Homo sapiens: one gene and its partners. The protein of the gene in region 5 interacts with the protein of the main gene of each other region in a pairwise test. Each region holds a gene or a part of one and is shown on either strand. Other genes may lie near its edges. The genes, in order: HCCS, CDK5RAP2, TPD52, ACSF2 and SENP2.

What was found.
Region 1: the proteins of SENP2 (region 5) and HCCS interact in binary tests that used the Homo sapiens proteins (3 or more experiments, as listed by UniProt).
Region 2: the proteins of SENP2 (region 5) and CDK5RAP2 interact in a two-hybrid assay, tested with the Homo sapiens proteins (one large-scale study listed by BioGRID and IntAct).
Region 3: the proteins of SENP2 (region 5) and TPD52 interact in a two-hybrid assay, tested with the Homo sapiens proteins (one large-scale study listed by BioGRID and IntAct).
Region 4: the proteins of SENP2 (region 5) and ACSF2 interact in binary tests that used the Homo sapiens proteins (3 or more experiments, as listed by UniProt).

The regions. Positions count from the first base shown.
Region 1 is NC_000023.11:11,109,856-11,114,324, reverse strand, and holds the start of HCCS (holocytochrome c-type synthase), read right to left. Parts: upstream 2,994-4,469; 5' UTR 2,807-2,993; intron 2,307-2,806; 5' UTR 2,265-2,306; coding exon 2,165-2,264; intron 1-2,164. UniProt on the Homo sapiens protein: Lyase that catalyzes the covalent linking of the heme group to the cytochrome C apoprotein to produce the mature functional cytochrome.
Region 2 is NC_000009.12:120,440,634-120,444,606, reverse strand, and holds part of CDK5RAP2 (CDK5 regulatory subunit-associated protein 2), read left to right. Parts: intron 1-864; coding exon 865-987; intron 988-3,973. UniProt on the Homo sapiens protein: Potential regulator of CDK5 activity via its interaction with CDK5R1. Negative regulator of centriole disengagement (licensing) which maintains centriole engagement and cohesion. Involved in regulation of mitotic spindle orientation.
Region 3 is NC_000008.11:80,066,651-80,070,623, forward strand, and holds part of TPD52 (tumor protein D52), read right to left. Parts: intron 1-3,973.
Region 4 is NC_000017.11:50,463,746-50,467,718, reverse strand, and holds part of ACSF2 (medium-chain acyl-CoA ligase ACSF2, mitochondrial isoform 2 precursor), read right to left. Parts: intron 3,902-3,973; coding exon 3,810-3,901; intron 3,502-3,809; coding exon 3,425-3,501; intron 3,224-3,424; exon of another isoform or gene 3,194-3,223; coding exon of another isoform or gene 3,120-3,193; exon of another isoform or gene 2,422-3,119; coding exon of another isoform or gene 2,280-2,421; intron 2,013-2,279; coding exon of another isoform or gene 1,849-2,012; intron 1-1,848. Other genes in the region: CHAD (chondroadherin precursor), read left to right, coding at 1,849-2,012, 2,280-2,421. UniProt on the Homo sapiens protein: Acyl-CoA synthases catalyze the initial reaction in fatty acid metabolism, by forming a thioester with CoA. Has some preference toward medium-chain substrates. Plays a role in adipocyte differentiation.
Region 5 is NC_000003.12:185,613,633-185,617,605, reverse strand, and holds part of SENP2 (sentrin-specific protease 2), read right to left. Parts: intron 3,043-3,973; coding exon 2,866-3,042; intron 127-2,865; coding exon 1-126. UniProt on the Homo sapiens protein: Protease that catalyzes two essential functions in the SUMO pathway.

The DNA of each region.
Region 1 (4,469 bases), on a different chromosome or scaffold from region 5:
AGGAGACATCACAGAGGCTACTGCAAAAAAATCTGAATGCCACTCTGCTTTGTCTCAAGACTGAAACAAGGCACAGGAAAACCACGTGGCCTATGGCCTATTCCCATCAGTCAATGGCAAGAGTTTAACAGGAAAAGACAGACAATAAAGAAAATATTCCACAACCCATACAGGATCAAGATGCCCATTACGAGGGAAGGTCTGAGCCTAATGAGATGAGCAATAGCAAGGGCTATGCCCAAAGACCCAGGATGCTGATCCCAATTAGTGAGGGACTGGGAAACTGGTTCAGAGAATGAGCAGGCACTTGGAGAGCTGAGACACAGAAGACAGCTGCTCATGTAATGGAATCTTGGCCTCAGGCAGCAGCAGCAGCAACTACAGCAATACACATGAAAAAGCTGAGTTTGCTTTCACTTCCTTCCCTGCACTTCTCCTCCCAAGCCCTCATTTCCTGGTGCCCTGTGCCACTGCCCACTTTAGGGGTGAAGGAAGACTTGCTATGCCTTTCCTCTCTACCACTGAAAGCACCAATCCTTTCCAAGTCATAGATCCCAGCTGGGTGTTACAAAGAAAATAACATTTCAACTTTTCACGTCATATAACCAGTAGCCCCTTCGATCTCCTATAGACACCCACATTCTTTATTAATGTAGTAAGTCTGGCAGCTCTCCAAGATATACAGCAAATGAAATAAAACCAAAGTAAGGGTTCTAGAATCTCCCTGAGGACACTCAGAACAGGAGCACACCTGCTTTGGCTGATCTGTCTCAATTCTTCCTGTACAAAGAAACCCCAGAAGAACACTGCCTGTCCTTGTCCAAGGTCACAGAACTTTTGCTGGCTTTGCCACTTACTATGTGACTTGGAGCATCAGTTACTCCAAGTCTTAGTTTCCTTGACTATAAAATAGGGAGAAAACTTAGCTTATGAAGTCGTAAGACCACATAGCTTATGAAGATGAGAATGTAAGCTCTATCAGGCAAAGCTCCATTTTGTATGATGTTATTCTCTCGTGCAGAAACAAACAAAATCCAGCAATGCTTGGTACAGAATGGGCAGTGACCTCTCAGAATAGGCTGGCTGACTGAAGAAATGAATAACAGCGCAAACATTAGTACTCAGTAAGCACACCATGTTGCTTCTGCCCTTCACGACTTACTGATTCAAGCCACACTTTAATATAAAAAATCTAAAGTAGACATGAATGAATTAAAAATGAAAGACAGCTTTTCCATTTTCATTTTCTTATCTAAAGAATGGACAGCAAGCCCGTTAAGTGATGGCTTACTTTTATATACGAAAATACTGAAATGGCTATACGAGCAAAAGTTATTTATTAAGACAGCTAGATCTAGACTAAGGTTTCTCAACCTTGGCCCTCTTGATATTTGGGGCCAGCTGATTCTTTGTTGGGGGGCTGTTCTGTACATTGTAGGATGTTTAGGAGCACTCCTGCCCTCTATTCACTTTCCTCTCAGTTGTGACAACCAAAAATGCCTCCAGATATTGGCAAATGTCCCCTGTGGGAAGGGGGGATTGCCCCCCTCCAGTTAAGAACCACTGATGTAGGCACAAGTAAACTTTGGGAAGTTGGGGCTGGTTTAGAGTACTCACTACGTTCTCATGTACTACCTCAATCATCATGACAGGCCTGTGAAACATTATTATATCTTCATCTTACAGATGACAGACTGAGGCTAACAGAGTTAACTTGTTTAGAGTCACAAACCTCAATAAGACGCAAAATAACGACCAGACCCAGGGTGCCTGACTCCCATGCCTACCAGCCTCAGCAGCATACTACACTGCCTCTTCCTTTAGAGGCTTTCCAGACTTTTTTTAAGACACAGTCTCACTCTGTCACCCAGGCTGGAGTGCAGTGGCACAATCTTGGCTCACTGCAACCTTGGCCTCCCAGGCGATCCTACCCACCTCAACCTCCAAAGTCGCTGGTACTACGGGCACCCACCAGCACGTCTGGCTAATGTTTGTATTTTTTTGTAGAGGGAGGTTTTTGCCATGTTGCCCAGGCTGGTCTCGAAGTCCTGAGCTCAAGCAATCCACCCACCTCGGCCTCCCAAAGTGCTGTCACAGGCGTGAACCACCGCACCCAGCCGTGAATTATCTTTTGTTTTTATTTTCTAGGCAAAGGGCCGATTACCTTTCATTTTCCCTTCATGCATCGGGCATCCTGAAGGTGGGGACGCTGAAGCATTTGAGGCCTGAACTGCAACAGCAGGAGCAGATGGAGACAAACCCATGGCTGGAAACAGTGTTGACTGTAAACAATTTTAAATTTCCACCTGCCAAAACAAAGAGACAGATTAATGTCTCTGGACTCAGACTATTCTCTCGTTAGTCCTAATCTGGTCAACCCTTGTTCCTCCTCTTTGTCATCCCATGGGCATCTACCAGGCAGGGTACTAACTTCGAAGGACAGCTTTAATATATTGCCCCCTTAGGGAAATACTGTGAAACCCAGGCCAACCTCTGGGGGCACGTATGTATCTAAGGCAGTGAGGATTTTGGGACTGAGGTGAGGCAGTCGCTGAGAAACCACGTCACAGCCAGGAGGTACAGGCCTGAGGCGGGAGTGGGGCGAGGATTTCCGAGGAGTGGTGACCCGGGTGGAGGAGGGGAGGTCCATTGAGCCTAGACTTGACCCCCATCCCCAGAGCCTTAGCGAGGGGCTGGGGGTCCGAGAAGGGTGCGGCGCATGAATAGGAATTCGAAGAAACGAAGGGACACCAGAGGTCGAGAAGCTGCCAAGTGTCTTCCCCACACCGTCCCGGCGCTTGCCCACCTGCTCCAGCCCGTGGTCCCCAGACCAAACCGGCCGCGGCCAGCCTGCCCTTCTGCACCTAAGCCCTCCCCCGGGCTGTTCCGGGAGGCCGGTACCGCCTTCAGTCGCCAACCCGAACCCAGAGCAGCAGTGACTTCACGCCGCCGCCGCCGCCGCCGCCGCCTTCCTCTCACTCGGTCACCGCTGTGGCTGCGGTCACCGCCGGCGTTCTCACGCACCCCTACTTCCTTTTTAGAAGGCGGGACTTCCGGGCACGCGGGAGGCGGGCTGAAGAGTAATATTTTCCGTCAATCACGGAGAGCGGGTTCCGTCCCCTCCTCGCCCCGGCCTGTAACTGCTGCGGGGGCCGCTTTCTGGGCCCGCCCCTCCAGGCCAGGAGCCTTTTTCAAAATGTGGCGGTGGCAGGGAAGGTTGTCTGCTCCAGAGGCTTCCCTAGAGTGAAGAGCTCTACTATGTATGCTTTATGCGGCAGAAGGAGTGCTTTGGAGGAGTTTTTAAATTTGTTTTTTTTTTAAATCTTATCGGTTTTAATTGTAGCAATGATTCAAGAAACGTTAGTAGGTGCCCATAACTTCGGTGGTGGAGATCCAAAAGTGAACAAGACAGTGTTCTGGCTGCTAAATTCTTCTTAACTGGGTATGTGATTTTGAATGTCTGTATTTTCATTTACCTCCAACAGAAATTTAGCATTTTCTTCCATCAGGGATGTAGGCAATAAATCCTAGTACTATTAGCTGTATGTGGCACTAATACACATTACAGATAAATTATGTCACATATGGTTGTTGTGCCTGTCTCAAAATATCATCCATCCACTACTTTGAAATTAAGGTAATTTGATCTTGTTACTTAAAGTGTTAATAAAGAAACATATATCTTTCTATATAACTATAGTGGCTCTGTGAAATACGTCCAGATGTCCCCTGGTGCAGAAAGTGTTGGGGGCTCACAGCTTTCAGCTGAGTCTCCAGGAATTGTCCTCTGCCTAAGAGAATTGCCTCACACAAAATCACTTCCCCTCCTTGGGGACGATCTGCATCCTATGAGGGTCTCTGCAAGGGCACATAAGTCCAGGCCCCTAGCCCCAAAGGGGACAACTCAGAAGGGCCATCCCAGCATCAGAACTGCCTACAGGATAGCCCAAGGATTCCATTTCAACTATCACAGCTCAACTTCTCTCTTTACCCACAATTCTTTTGTCCCTCCCACAATTCCTTTTCACTCCCGCAATTCTGTTTTGTTACCCACAGTTCTGTCTCCCACAATTCTCAGTTCTTTCCACAATCTTCTGTCTCTCCCACAATTCCTTATTTCTCCCACAATCCCATGTCACTCCCAAAATTCTATTCCTTCCCACAATTCATTTTTCTGTCCCACAATTCCTTGTCTTGCTCACAATTCTCTTGTTTCTCCCATGATTCCTTGTGTCTCCCACAATTCACTTTTCTGTCCCACAATTCCCTGTCTTGCCCGTAATTCTGTTGTTTTTCCCAAAATTTGCTGGGTTTCCCAGCAAGCCTTTATTCTTTCCTACAAATTCTTGTATCTCTCAAAATTCTGTTTCCCACAGTTCCATTCCTCCCACAGTTCTCTGTCTTTTCCATCATTCCCTATGACTCTGTCTGTCACAATTCCTCAAAATTATTCATTTCCACAATGTTCT
Region 2 (3,973 bases), on a different chromosome or scaffold from region 5:
TTGGCAGAATTGCTCTTCCCTTACCACCTCCTTATCTACCTTCTTCTAATCCATTCAACCATCATCCAGACATCTTTTCATTCATTCAGTGAACATTCCCTGAGCACCTGCTATGTTTCCAGCCTCATGCACTGGGGGTAGGAGAGAAATAAATCAGATGCAGTCTCTGCCTTCTGAGAACTCCCCATCTGGTGTGGGCTTGGGGAGGTGGCAGTTAACTAAATCAATACAGGGTTGTGGGGACCTTCATGGAGGAAAGATTTTATGGCAAAGGTAACTCAGCTCAACAGAGGCCCTGGCACTTTGCCCATAGCTTGCCATTTTTTAAAATTCAAATTTAAATTTTTTATATTTTGTAGAGATGGGGGTCTTGCTATATTGCCCAGGCTGGTCTTGAACTCCTGGCCTCAAGTGGCCCCCCTGCCTCGGCCTCCCGAAGTGCTGGGATTATAGGCATGAGCCACCATGCTGGCTCCTAGCTTGCCATTTGCACTCAATACTGTTTTTATTTTTTGCTGAGACACCAGAGTGCCTCAACTCCAGGTGCTACCTCAAACAGTTGCCCAGGAGACCCTAGGGCCTCTCTCTTCTTGGGAAAAATGGGCACGAATTGATAGAATTCATTTTCTCACTCAGCTTTTTGAGAGCCTGGACTTAAACCATTTCAGACAAGCTGCAGTATATTTATGCTTTTTATGTCCTGTTATGGCAGCTCGATAGATTAATTTTATCTTATAAATTGCATTTTGCCTCCCCAGTGTTTTTATTTTCCCTGTTGTATCTTTGTGTTCTTCTCAGTTGCTTGGCTAAGTTTCAGGTCTTACGGTTTTATTTATTTTTCTTTCTCTTTGTGATTGCCTGTAGCTCAGCCCCCTGTGGGAGCAGCCTACCAGGACAGCCCAGGAGAGCAGAAAGGAATTAAAACCACATCTTCTGTCTGGAGAGACAAGGAAATGGACAGTGATCAGCAAAGAAGCTACGAGATTGGTCAGAATTCAGCCCCTGTGTGTATTGAACAGCTTCCATGTGCCAGGCACCATTTGGATGTTTTATCTAAAAATTATTACTAAGCCCATAGCAGCCCTCTCAGGGCATTATTATCATTCCAGTCTAACACATGGGAAGCTGAGGTTTTAAGAAATAATTGACCCAGGGTCACCCAGCTGGTAAGTAGGAGAAGAGTCAAGGTACAGTAGGATGTCAGAACCCACCCGTCCATGTGTCAGCATGCTTCTCTACCAGGCAGTGGGCTGGGTTCTGGTGGTTCAACATGAAAAGACACAGCCTGCTCTTAGGGACCCCACAGCTCGGAGGAGACAATCATCCCAACAGCCTGTTAGTATTCAGCGCGGGGCTGCCTGTTGCTGAGGTGTGCTTGGTGTTGGTCCGTGTGCCCAGGAGGAGTGGGTCAGAAGAGAGCCTGAGGCTGAGACTGGGTTTGTGGGGTTTGCCAGGCAGATCAGTGGAAAAGGTGCAGAGATACGGGTGAGGGCAGAGGCAAGTTGTATTCCTTTCTTTTTAAAATTATGAAGTATTAGAAGCATACATAAGCACAAAAGATAATATAACAAATACTCATGTTCTCATTCAACCAGAATGAACAAATGCCTACATTCTTTTTATGTTAGATATTTTTCCCCCTTCATTAAAAAAAATCACTATTAATCCAGATCTAATTCACTCTGTTAGAAATAATTGTCCTCAAGAATCCTAAATTTGTCATGGGATGGCCATGGGGACACCAGTCTCTGGAAAAATACTGAGTTGTGGTATATACACTGTTGTATACTTTTGCAAGGTCCAGAGTCACTGCAGTGAACACATGGTCACATGCTTCTGCGTGTTCTGGGCTTTGAGGAGAAAGCTACTCTACCAGGCAATAAAGTCCCCCTTAGCTGAATTGTGGAAAGTTGTAGAACTATAGTATTTCTTATAATGCAAATATTCATAAATGGTCTTGGGGACATCTTTTGATTTCTTCTTGATAGTTATTAATACAGACTTCTTAACTAATCGACAGCTTCCCTTTCCCTGTCAGTACTTCCCTTCATTACTGAATGTCTTTCATTTTTCTGAATGTGCTTCCAGAACTTTGTATGTGAATTGCATCTGCCTGAACTTCCACCTTTTAATTGTTGCGCAGCTGAGGCTGGGTGCTGCGTGTGACATCTTCATTGCTGTTTCTTTTTCACAAGGCCCTTGACAGATACTTGGGATGTGAATAAAGGATTTTACAGGCATCTTGGCCTTCACATTGAGGGTTAAGAACTCTCTCTCTCTTTGCTCATGCACCGCGGTACAGGAGATTGGATTGCAGGAGTGTTACTTCGGGAAGCATCATTCAGAGTGTTAGAGGCAGACTGCCAGGCTTTGAGGAGGGGCTCTACTGCTTACCTACCCTGAACCCTAAGCAAATTCTTAAGCTCCCTAAGCCTCAACTTCCTCTTCTGTAAAATGGGGGTACTAGTGATGCCTCATAATTACTTAAGGAAAGTCCTGGGAACTAATCTTTATTTCCATGAGTGAACACGCTTCTTGCCATGAAGTACAGACCAAATTCTATTATCATGAGGTTATTACAGCAAAGATATTTTCTTGTCTTGGAGGGTGATTCACTGGAAAAAAAGCCTTATGGAGAGATATCTCCCTCCCCAGTTCCTCTTTCTCTTTCTTGTTCAGCCAGAAATACTTGGTGAGTACATTCTCTGTCGCAGACCCTGTGCTAGATACTGGAGAAACAGACATGGATGACACGGTCTGCACCCTCAAGGCTCTTATTGAGTAATTATCATAACATTGTGTATAATAAAAATACTGTATTAGGAATGCTTCCTTTAGGTCAGGTAGCAGCTGCTTTCTGAAATGAAATGCCATACTTTATGGTATTTGCATCATGAACAGATACAAGAGTGTACCTCAAGTCACAAGGAGCAGATTGCAGAACCAGAAATTGGGACATGCAGTCTGATGAGGATTTGTGTGTGAATTTCTTTCTGAGAGATCTCCTAGGTCACCCAGTCCAACCCACGTTGTTGCTTTTGTAGCATTTTTCCAGGCTGGCCTTCGCACGCACGCCTCCGGTGAAGGGCATCTCCTTCTATCTTGGAATGGTTAGAGGATGTTTGTGTTACTTGGATTCCTTCACTACTATGTGCCAGACACTGTGCTAGCCTTTTTTTTCTTTTTGCAGATTTTGTTCCATATAATCCCTAAAAACAAACACACACACACAACTTTTCAGTGATGTTCTTTCCATTTTACAGATAAAGCTACTAAAGCTCAGAGAGGTCAAGTAACTTGCCTATGTGACAGAGCCAGAGTTTGAAACCATGTCTGTTGAATTTCAAAGACAGGTTTTTCTACTACATTCCGCTGCCCCTTAAGTATTCAGACAGCTCTCTATATTGAACGGAACTTTCCCTGGGCAGCCAGCAGTGTGGCACAGTGGTTAAGAACAGAAGCTGCACTACAACCATATGAGACATCTCTTTCTACATTTTAGACACAGGGGAAACTGAGGCTCTTGGATAGTAAAGTCACTTGCCTCAGGCTGTGTGGCCTTCAAACTTCATATTCTTTCTGCTGTACTACTCCACTTCTGAAACAAGTTTGACTGCATCTCTAAGGGTTTAGCTATTACTAGCTATAAGGAAATATTTCCTGGCAGTGTTGTGAGTGAGTGAAACACCTCACTAAAGGGGATGTCAGGGCATCTCCTGGAAGCCATTAGACATGGAAATGAGAAGACTGTCACGTGTTGTGGATATTCAGAATTACCACTCTTTACTGTTGCTTCACAGAATCTCTCAATATTTCTCACACTGGCACTGACTTCTGGTCTGGGTTAGGTTCTGTACTAGACGCCGAGAATGTGAAAATGAAAGGCCACATCTCTGCTGTGAAGAAACGTGCAGTCTGGTGAGGGAGAGCTACATTCAGATGACGAATTGCTATGTGAATCAATAAATAAGCC
Region 3 (3,973 bases), on a different chromosome or scaffold from region 5:
TTACTGGACCCGTCTCCTGCTAGCTGGCATTGGCACCTCTTACTCCAACTCCTGCCAAACCACACCGTGAACAACGTGCTGTACTATGTACTGTCAGAAACCATTTCCCAGCATCTGTGTGTGCTTGTAAATCTACCCTCTATGTCAGATTATGTGAAGAAAGTTGTATGAGATTGAAACTGAGAGTCAAGCATTCAAGTAACAATCATATAAGGCAACACAGTAAGAACCATAACAGAGCTACCTGTTAAACGTTATTTTATTTTTAATGTTTTGTACAGAACTCCCAGGTTCTCCAACTACAACAGATCTCCAAAACAAAACAAGCAAAACTCAGGTACCAAACCATTACTTAAATAGCAAAGACTCTTTCATGCTTTTTTGATACACACTGTTTTGCAAATCTACTCAAACAAGGGGAGAAATACAGTATCTGACTGCTAACACAATGCTTTATGTATACTGCCCAATTCCAAAAAGAATCCAAGGGGATTCTGGTTCTATTCAAGTATGCGGCTAGGCTATCAAGGAAAATAAATCTCTCAGAAAAGAGGATGACGGGTTGTCCAGTTGGCTTCAAGTCTGCCAGGATGACCTTGAGATTTTATATTCAGCATCTAAGAAAGTTGGTAATGACATGTTCTGCTCTTTCCACATTAGCCCGTAGGTGGCAGCAAATCATTATCATTAAAATTAAAAGGTGCAGTCTGGAAAAAAAAATTAGAAATTAAAGAACACCAAGGAAGAACAGAATGGTAGATACCAAAATCACCAGCAAAACATCACAGTCATGCCTTGAGAAAATTATTAACCACAGCCACCATGACAGAGTGCATTCCATTTACAGACAAGTCCAAATTAAGTGTTTTAAATACTTATGTGCAACACTTCTGTGAGGTGGGGATCCCTGTCACCACTTACAGATCAGGAACCTCAAGCTTACAGACATTAAGCAACTTGCCCAGGTTAACACACCTAAATCTTTGGTGGAGGTCAGATTTTAAACCTAGACGGTCTGATGTAAAAACAAATGCTTCACATCACTGATCTGAAAACAAAGACAAAAGTAGGAGGCTGATGGTCAGACCTGAAAGGTATCTAGAAGCAATAATAAGACCCTAAAAAGTGAAAGAATCTGGCAGACTAGATCAAAAGCAGTCTTCATTAATTCCAACTAAAGTTTCCCCAAACCTGGGAATCCAAATTTTGCCTTATATATTCGTCTAGATATGATCCTGTTTCTTGTATGTTCAGTAATGGTATAGGATTTAATATGAAAATAGAGTCTGGCTTTTGGGAGAAAAGATTAATTTCTCATTCACAACATGAAAGGTGGAAAATAAGAACATTTAAAAGTATAGATTATTGAAAACCATAATCCAAAACTTATTTGTTCATTAATTTTAATGTTGTTTTTTTTTTCTCAGAATCTGATGGAAAGCTGTTTTTAAAAGACAAAGATGGTGGGGAAAATACAATTAATATCTACTGACATCTACTACACCAGCCACTGTGAGGGGAAGTCTACATGTTATCTTATAAAAATAAAAACACCCCATAACCACCATCCGAGAGGAGTATTTTTTTTCCACCAGGAAACTGCGGTCCTCTAAGGCTATATAATTTGCCCAGAGTTACAGAGGCAGGATTAATACTTGGGTCTTTCTGTCTCTCGACTCAGCTCCATCACGAACATCTTAGAGAAACATCAATGATCATGGCAGGACAAGGAAACAGGGCCTAGTCTTTCTCCATAGAAACGTTTTACTTTCCTGAGGGTCTAGGAACCTGTGGGGATCCCTGGTTTGAAAGTCACAGATAACATTATCAAACACAAGTGACTGAAAATGAGTGATAATTTCTTCCATCAGGTTATTAACATTTTAGCCATTGCCTTAGTTCTCTTCATCTAGCTGTGCAAACAGATTGTCAGCCTGTCTTCAGTTCCATCCATAGGATCCCTGAAGAGCTTTAGGTGGGGGAGTGACAAGTCTAGACTTGTCTTTGGAAAAGTCCTTCCAGCAAGCTGGGTATTGGGTGGCCTCCCCTGGGAAGGGTCTGGAGTCCACTGGCAGGGCAATGCATCTCGCTGATTCCCAGCTGAGAGTTCTAGTGTCTCAGGGGTAAGGATGGAGAAGACAAGCAGAGACACATCCCATCAATCTGAAGATACTTTTTACATTTTACATCTTTGAGATGCACTGTACAATTAATCAGCCAGTCATTGTGACATGGTTATCACCTGCAAACATGCTTCAAAATTTGCAAAATGGCTTAGAAAATGCCAGGTCCGGTTACAGACGTCTCTTAAGAAAGGCTGCACCACAGACATTTTATGTGAGGAAAATAAATCAATAGAATAGACATAGATTACTCCAAGTTGAATAGCAATTCAAATAAGTTAGATTATGGGTGTGAAGACATTTTAGGAAATGTTCTTTTTTATTTTAGAAAATATGCACAGGAGTGTTATGATCAGTGTAAACGTCTGAATAAATCTAAAAAAGAACTTCAATAAATGTAAAAATTTTGGCCAGGCACAGTGGTTCATACCTGTAATCCCAGCACTTTGGGAGGCCAAGGTGGGAGGATCACTTGAGCCCAGGAGTTCGAGACCAGCCTAGGCAACAAAGTGAGATCCTGTCTCTACAAAAACTCAAAAACCATTAGCCGGGTATAGTGGCCTGCACCTGTAGTCCCAGCTACTCAGGAGGCTGTGGCGGGAGGATCGCTTGGGCCTAGGAGGTTGAAGCTGAATGAGCTGTGATCGTGCCACTGCACTCCAGCCTGGGCAACAGAGCAAGACCCTGTCTCAAAACAACAACAACAAAAATTTTAATAAAAATTTTTAGGGGGCTGGGCATGGTGGCTCACACACACCTGTAATCCCAGCACTTTGGGAGGCAGAGACAGGCAGATCACTTGAGGCCAGGAGTTCAAGACCAGCCTGGGCAACGTGGTGAAACCCCATCTCTACTAAAAATAATTTTTAAAAAAGATTTAAAACTTAAGTTATGATAAAGCAGGTTTTTTTTTAGTTTAACTATTAGCATATTTTATACTTAATGAAACAAAAAATAATAGTAACATCTTACAATCTGTGGTGTCTTGGATTTGATGAAATACAACACTTCAAGACTTCAGAGTCCTTGTGAATAATGTGCGGAAGACAAAGTGGAAATGTGTGTGTGCGAGTGTGGTCAGAGCAGGGAAAGGCAGAGCAGAGTGGCCAAGAACCGGTAAGAGCTTAGTCCTGAACACATCTCTAGTTCTAGACTATAAAGTCCTGATGTCACTTTATCTCTCCATCTCAGAACTCACAGTGCCTAGAACAGTCAATGTTAATATTGCATCTGAACTGAATTATTCTTTAAAGATTTAATTAAAGTAGCTCTCTCTTTACTTTCCCATGCATAACCACCCATTTGCCACATACTTTCACAAATTTCAACTGGGGAAAGCAGCAAAAGCGTTTTTACTAAAAATGTAGAACCTACACTTAAGCCAAAAATAAGAGTTTGAGGAGCGCCTCTCTCTGCTTGGGTGCAGCCCCAACCCCCCTTTGGAGCACCCACTTAAATGGTTATCTTCCCTCTAGTTCTTCGTCTTTGACTTTTATTCCAATTATGACCAAGTGCTTCAAGACTTTCTAAGATTATTGATTAAAAGCTTTTTGGCCATTGTCATACAATTTTAGATCTGAAAGAATTCTGAATCGTTTAAGTCAGCAGTCCCCAGTGTTTTTTGCACCAGGGACTGGTTTCATGGAAGACAATTTTTCCACGGCGGTTGGGGGTTGATGATTTTGAGAGGAAACTGTTCCACCTCAGATCATCAGGCATTAGATTCTCATAAGCAATGTGCAACCTAGATCCCTCGCATGTGTGGTTCACAATAGGGTTCATGCTCCTATGAGAATCTAATGCCACCACTGATCTGACAGGAGGCAGAGCTCAGGCGGTAATGCTCACTC
Region 4 (3,973 bases), on a different chromosome or scaffold from region 5:
TGTTGGGCCTTCCACCCCTCCTCTGCTGTTTTTCCCGTCTCCAGTAAACCTACCACCCCATAAAGGAAGGTTTGTTTATTGAGGAGCCTTCCAGAGGAGCTGGGCAGATCAGGCCCACAAAGAGACCCTGTTCCTGGTGGGGGCTGTGCATGTGTGCTAAGGGGGAGTGGGGGACTGGGGAGTGAGGGGAAGCAAATGCCTGAGGAAGACATTCTCCATGCCCCATAGAGGCCCTGGTGGATGGCCCTGCCCAATCCACACAGACACAATTCACTGCATTCTCAAGTCCATTGCAGCTCAGTAGGCGTGGGACCAAGGGCTCCCCCAGGATGCAAGCATCGTGCCCATGGGCTCCGTGAAGGGGCAAAGGCAAGACCACTATTGTCAATCCTTGGCCCAAGACCCCAGGTGTCTCTCCACAGAGAAGACTGGCGTGACTCACTGTCTCCAGACTGCTAACTGCCCTTTGCCCTCCTCCGTCACTAGACCCATCTCCTGTCTGCATCCTCACTCATTCCTTTCTCCCCTGGGGTGCCCAGTGTCTGGCCAGGTGGGGCTACCTTGGATCAGAGCAGAATCCCTTCTCTGGGACTGGAAAAATCACCCTGGTACAGGGGCTTCAGCCAGGAGGTTTGGGTGGGGAACCAACAAGGTAGAGGAGAGTCTGGTTACTGGAGACCTTCATACCTCAATGTGGGCCACAGGAAAGGGTGCGGGTGTGGAGATGTGGGCAGAATCTCACTTGGGCAGCAGCCAACCTTTGTCTGGGTGGAAGGAGCCTGCTCAAGCCTGCCCTTCTTCAGCCCTGCCTCTCCCCAGCTGAAGTTGGAGTCCCCTGTGGCCCACCAGTGCCAGAGTGGTCTTTCAGTGGGCAGCAGAGCAGCGAATTAGGGGCTGGTTTGGGGCAGGGGAGGCCAGACAGGAATTGTGGCGCCTGGGCAAAGGTGTGGGCACCAATAGAACATTTCCTCTGGAGCCGTCCAACCTGGCCAAAGGCTCCACCAAGGTGGCTTCACAAATAGCGTCTGGCTGGCAGTGGGGGAGCAGTGAGGACAGAGCTGAGGGAAGTCCTGGGACCCTGGGACTGTGGGGAGCCTGGGCCCACTGCCCACTCCACCAAGCACAGACCAAGTTCACCGTGTACCAGTTTGGATTGCTGGGGCCAAACTCTGGCAGCCCCACAGTCCCAGTGTTTGTGCAGGGATTGTGGTGCCAGGGGAAGAGGAGCTGGGTGTGGTCCTGTGGCTACTGTTTACCCACTGCTGTGACCCAGGGCAAAGGACTGCGCTTTTTCCGTTTCCCCATTTGCATATTGAAAATAACACCACCTGGCTGGGCGTGGTGGCTCACGCCTGTAATCCCAGCACTTTGGGAGGCTGAGGCGGGTAGATCACGAGGTCAGGAGATCGAGACCATCCTGGCTAACATGGTGAAACTGCGTCTCTACTAAAAAAATACAAAAAAATTAGCCGGGCATGGTGGCGGGCACTTGTAGTCCCAGCTACTCAGGAGGCTGAGGCCGGAGAATGGCGTGAACCCGGGAGGCGGAGCTTGCAGTGAGCTGAGATCGTGCCACTGTGCTCCAGCCTGGGCAACACAGTGAGACTCCATCTCAAAAAAAAAAAAAGGAAAAAAAAAAAAAAAAGAAAATAACACCATCTGTCTCAAAGGGGGTTGTGTAGATTGGATTATCTGAGATCACTTGGTCATACTGCTTTGAAAACTGGGAAACTCCTCAAAGTGCTATGGCTCAGGTTCAGGGAAGGATCCTGCCCCTCTGGCACTCGGGTGCTTACTCATTCACTCATGACCACCTTGCTCCCACCTTGCTCCCACCTTGCTCCCCAGTTCTCAGATGGTGCCTTCCTGGGTGTAACCACGCTGAAACACGTCCATTTGGAGAACAACCGCTTGAACCAGCTACCCTCCAACTTCCCCTTCGACAGCCTGGAGACCCTCGCCCTTACCAATAACCCCTGGAAGTGTACCTGCCAGCTCCGGGGCCTTCGGCGGTAAGAACACTTCCATGTCACTCCCAGAGCCCACCCTCATGTGATAGAGGCACATTAGCCCTGCACTAAGACATGTTGGACATGCATCCTAGATCTGCTACCTAATAAGCATGGGACCCTGGGAGCCTCAGTTTCCCCATTTGTAAAATGAAGATGACAGCTTCAGACTATCCTGTGGCCAAGTCAATCCTGGCCCCATAGTTCACTGCCCTTCCCCCCAGCACTCCCACCTTCTTCCCCAGCCCCAGCAAGTTTCTGTCTCTCCAGGTGGCTGGAAGCCAAGGCCTCCCGCCCAGATGCCACCTGTGCCTCACCTGCCAAGTTCAAGGGCCAGCACATCCGTGACACGGACGCCTTCCGCAGCTGCAAGTTCCCCACCAAGAGGTCCAAGAAAGCTGGCCGCCATTAAACAGGTGGGGGCCAGGTAAACAGGTCCCCTATGTCCCTCTTTGGTGATTCCAGCAAGTGAGCTGGTATCTTCCAGGATACCCCCTGGCCCTGGAGGGTCAGGCAGACCCTCCATTTTTACAGAGAGAGGAGGGGACGACTGGGTCCCCTGTTGAAGGGAGGAAAAGGTCCTGCCCAGGACTTCCACCATTTTCTTCAAGCATCATCTGTGTTGTTGGAGTACTGACATCGATCTTTGCCTCTTTGCAGGTTCTGACCCAGCCAGTCCTGGTGACTGGCCTCTGCCTTCCACCGGAGAGACTACTGACCTTCTCACCTCCACCCATACCTTCTCCCCACAGCCTCTGCTGATGCACAGAGCTGCCTACACCTAGACACGTCCTGGCAGGGGGCCTCGGGCACTCCACTACCAACCCAGCTCCACCCAGCAGTGTCCTGGGGAGAAGGAAGGCTGAGCCTCTCCCCAGCCTTCATGCCTTCCCCACCCTCCAGCTCCTCTTGGAGAAGCTGTTGCTGAGACCCCCCCCCCAAGTCAATCAGAACCACAACAGGTTGGTCATCAGGATGGCCACCCTCCCAGGATCATCCTTCCTCTGTTCCTCTTTCCCTGCCACGTGGAAACAATCATCAGATCCTTGCCCCACCCCTTGCTTCCAGAAAGGGTTTTAAAGCCCATGCCCCAACTCTGCCAGCCCCCACCTGCCAGGACGTTCTAGCAGGACATCGGTGCTTTGCTGTCCATCTTCCCATGCTGCAATTTCTTCCTGAGATTTCTATAAATATAAATGTATGTATGTATTATATTTACTCCCCTGCCACCTATCTCCTTCACCCACCAGGTGCTGATGAGGTCAGACTATCTTTTCTCACATCTGCTTTCTGGAAGGAGGGCTGGCTGAGAGGGTCTCCTTTGAACATCTGGCCTGGACTCATCCCCATGTCTGTCCATCTGCTGTCATCCCAGGCCTGGCCTGCCCACAGCCCGGGCCGCAGTCACCACTCACCACCAGGTCCTTCATATTTATCTTGTTGATGATGGCTCGGATCAACTCTGGAGGTGCAGGGGACCCAGCAATGACACCTGAATCAGAGAGAGGGCTGACACAGCTCCCCAATTCTCCAGGCCCAGTGGAGTCCTTTCACCTACAGCTCATTCAGGGGAGGAACATTCCCTTTTCTCCTCTGACCCCGAGCCTTTCCTACACCTGGCAGCTGGCCCTGGGCTGGTGTCCAGGGACACTGGGGATCTCCCTCCCTCCCACCCACATTTTTACAGCGTCCTTCTTGCCCCCTATATAAAAGACTGGGAGCATAGCTAACTCACCCGGGCCATTCCTGTGGGGGAAGCAGCCCCCTCCCCAAGCCTGGCTGCCCTTGGCCCCACCCCACCTCCACACATGGTCGAGATGTCATAACTGGAGAAGTCTGGCTGGTTCAGAATGTCCACGAACATCGTGGGGGTACCATACAGGAAGGTGCCTCTGTATAGGAGGAGGTCTCGAAATTAGGCTTGGAAGTGGAAGGGAACTCCCTGTTCTCACCCACCCCGCCAT
Region 5 (3,973 bases):
ATTGAGCCAGTGATAGTTCTTTAATGTCTGAATATCTCCTCGAGTAATTCGCAATTTGAAAGCACTACTTAGGATTTCATCCTGTGGGCCATGGCCTAGGGCATTACTGATTTCCTTTTCCATGTCCTGAATTAGAAAGTTCAGAAGTTGCTATTTTAATATAGAACCATTCATTATCAGTTATTGAAAACTCCGAGACTGAAAAAAGTTTTTCATCTCGGCAACACCTGACTCTTGAGAAAAATATACTATCAAAGACCTACTAAACTACAGTAGGAAAACATTTTTTTCTTATTTTTAGTGATAGAGATGGGGCCTCATTATATTGCCCAAGTTGGTTGCAAACTCCTGGGCTCAAGCAATACCTGCCTTGGCCTCCCAAAGTGCTGAGATTATAGGCATGAGCCACTGCACCAGCCCTGAAAATATTTTAACTTATAACTACAAAGCAGCCTTACTTAATTGTTGTAAGTAATACTTACAACAAATCCTGGTTCACTTATTAGCTTGTGGAAACAATAATTTAATAATAATATTTACATCTAAAGTATAGTCTCAATTTTCCTACTACTACGTATTAACCACTATGAGTCAAACATGGTGTTAGATGCTTGAAGCACATCATTGATCCATATTAGTGAGGAAGACATTATTATCATTTTATAGAGAAGAAAATTGAAACCCAGAGAATTTATTTTACATATTCAAAGTCATATAATTATTAAAAGGTAGAAGAAGATTTGAACCCAGGTGCATCTAATTTCCTGGACTTTGCTCCCTTCATAATAGTAAACTCCTGATTTCCACTTTAAACGTTTTTTTTTTTTTTTGGAGACGGAGTCTCGCTCAGTCTCCCAGGCCGGAGTGCAGTGGCGCCATCTCGGCTTACTGCAAGCTCCGCCTCCCGGGGTCACGCCATTCTCCTGCCTCAGCCTCCCGAGTAGCTGGGATGACAGGCGCCCGCCACCACGCCCGGCTAATTTTTTGTATTTTTAGTAGAGACGGGGTTTCACTGTGTTAGCCAGGATGGTCTCGATCTCCTGACCTCGTGATCTGCCCATCTCGGCCTCCCAAAGTGCTGGGATTACAGGTGTGAGCCACCAGCCTGGCCCTTCTTTTTTTTTTTTTTTTGAGACAGATTCTCACTTTGTCACCCAGGCTGGAGTGCATGCAGCTGCATGATCTCAGTTCACTGCAACCTCTGCCTCCCAGGTTCAAGCAATTTTCATGCCTCAGTCTCCTGATTAGCTGGAATTACAGGTGCACACCACCATGCCAGCTATTTTTTTGTATTTTTGGTAGAGACGGGGTTTCACCATGCTGGCCAGGCTGGTCTCGAACTCCTGACTTCATGATCCGCCCATCTTGGCTTCCCAAAGTGCTGGGATTACAGGCGTGAGCCACCACGCCCATTCTCGCCTTTAAACTTTTAAAACATCAAAAAAGGCTGGGTGTGGTGGCTCACGCCTGTAATCCCAGCACTTTGGGAAGCCAAGACGGGCGGATCATGAGGTCAGGAGTTCGAGACCAGCCTGGCCAGCATGGTGAAACCCCATCTCTACTAAAAATACAAAAATTAGCTGGGCGTGGTGGCACGCGCCTGTAGTCCCAGCTACGCAGGAGGCTGAGGCAGAAGAATCACTTGAACCTGGGAGGCAGAGGTTGCAGTAAGCTGAGATTGTGCCACTGCACTCCAGCCTGCCAACAGAGCGAGACTCTATCTCAAAAATAAATAAATAAATAAAACATCAAAATAAGATTAGGACATCTAAGGGGTCACACCATCCTTTTTGACATGAAGAGAATAAGCAAACAGGCAGAAACTTGGAAACCACCCAGCAGTCTAGCAATTGACTCCTTATGGAATAAATGGCTTCATCATACTAAAGAATTATGCAGATAAATGCATTATTTAAGATACAAAACTAAATCTATAAACCCAATAGAAATTATTTTCCTCTAGGCCGGGGGCAGTGGCTTGCGCCTATAATCCCAGCACTTTGGGAGGCCGAGGTGGGTAGATCATCTAAGGTCAGGAGTTCGAGACCAGCCTAGCCAACATGGTGAAACCCGGTCTCTACTAAAAATACAAAAATTAGCTGGGCATGGTGGCAGGTGCCTGTAATCCCAGCTACTAGGGAGGCTGAGCCAGGAGAATCACTTGAACCCAGGATGCAGAGGTTGCAGTGAGCCAAGATCGCGCCATTGCACTCCAGCCTGGGCAACAAGAGCGAAACTCTGTCTCAAAAAAAAGAAATTATTTTCTTCTAAATATATGCTGCTTCCCACTGCACACAGCTTCACCATTTTATGGATCTCTCTCTCCACCTACATGCCCAATATAACAGTAAGTATTCAAGAGATTTGCCTACTAGGGCAACATTGTGGAGGAAGCCAAGATGTGGGCACATCTTTAAAATAAGAATTTTAACTACCTTCATTCTTTATGTTCTGTAAGTTTTTACTATTTTCAAATGCAATAATCAACAAAGGGGGCATTTTAGTAAACTATAATAACTTTCAAAAAAAAAATGCAATGAACTTATTCTTAATGCCAAACCCATACTATATAACTCAACATATTTGAAGGTTAGAATTTACAAAGAATCTGTTGTATTCCAAGATATGAGATGACTGTGTCGACTCCCCATTTGCTGAATATCAATCTGATCCCTTAGGCCACTAATGATCATGCCTCACTAAAGATCAATGTAGTCAAAGTGAATCAACAGACCATGGACCTGACATGTTTTCATATATTCACCCCTAGCCTGGAGAAAGTCCTCAAAACAAAACATTCAAGTTAGAATAACTGAGGTTATTTAAAGACATGCCTCTTTTTAGGATCAATACAAAGAACAATACCTCTGTAAGTTCAAGGAGATCGTCCGTTCTTCTGTCCCTCTCTTTGCCTGAGCAATTCTTTTCCTTTGTCTCAATTATTGACACTTTCCTCCTGAGTAAGCCATTGCTTCCACTGCCCAGGCGGAGTCGGGCCGACACTTCTTCTGATAGGTCAGGCTCCAGTTGGTATCCCCTCCTCTGATCAAAAAATTATCTAAATTCTACTGACATGTTTGATACTTGCAAATATAAACACAGATTACACATGAAATATAAAACTGCCACTAATGTGAAAGAAAAGAGAATTAGCAAATCCCCCAAGTGAGTAGATTTACCCTATCTGTCTGTCCCTGCAAGGGGGAGCAAAAAAAGCTCCAGACCTAGGCCTCACAGGACCCTCAGTTATGAACCATCAAACAGAACACTCACCACCTTCCCTGGAAGTAGCAAGAAAAGTATTTTCAGTTCTCCTATCACAATTAAAATTAGTATGTTTAAAAGATATTATGAAAGTTTTAAACAGCAAAAAATATGACCCACAATCCCATCACTCAGAATAAATCCCTACTATCTTTATAGTAACTCAACTTGGTTCTAGTTTATCCTTGAAAAAAGTCATTTGATATTACAGAAAATGCACAAAACATTAATGTACCACTTAATTTGAATGAACACCTATATAACCACAATTGTAGTAAACAAATAGAATTCTGCCAGCAACCCAGAACATATCATCTCTTTCCAGAGATGTATGATTTTTAAGAAATTCTCCCTAAGAAGCCATAAAATGTAGGTAACATGTTGGTATGGAGGCAGATTGGTCTCTCATAAACAAAGGTGGCTACTGTACAGAGGCAAAACTCCAACAACTCAGAAGGAAGAAAAAAGTTGTGTATTTTCAATGCTTCCTGCCTTTTTTTTTTTTTTTTTTTTTGAGACAGAGTCTCATTCTGTCACCTAGGCTGGAGTGCTATGGTGTGATCACAGCTCACTGCAGCCTTGACCTCCTGGGCTCAAGCAATCCTCCCACCTTAGCTTCCCAAGTAGCTGGGACTACAGACATGCCACCATGCCTGGCTAACTTTTAAATTTTTTTGTGGAGACAGTCTCACTATGTTGCCCAGGCTGG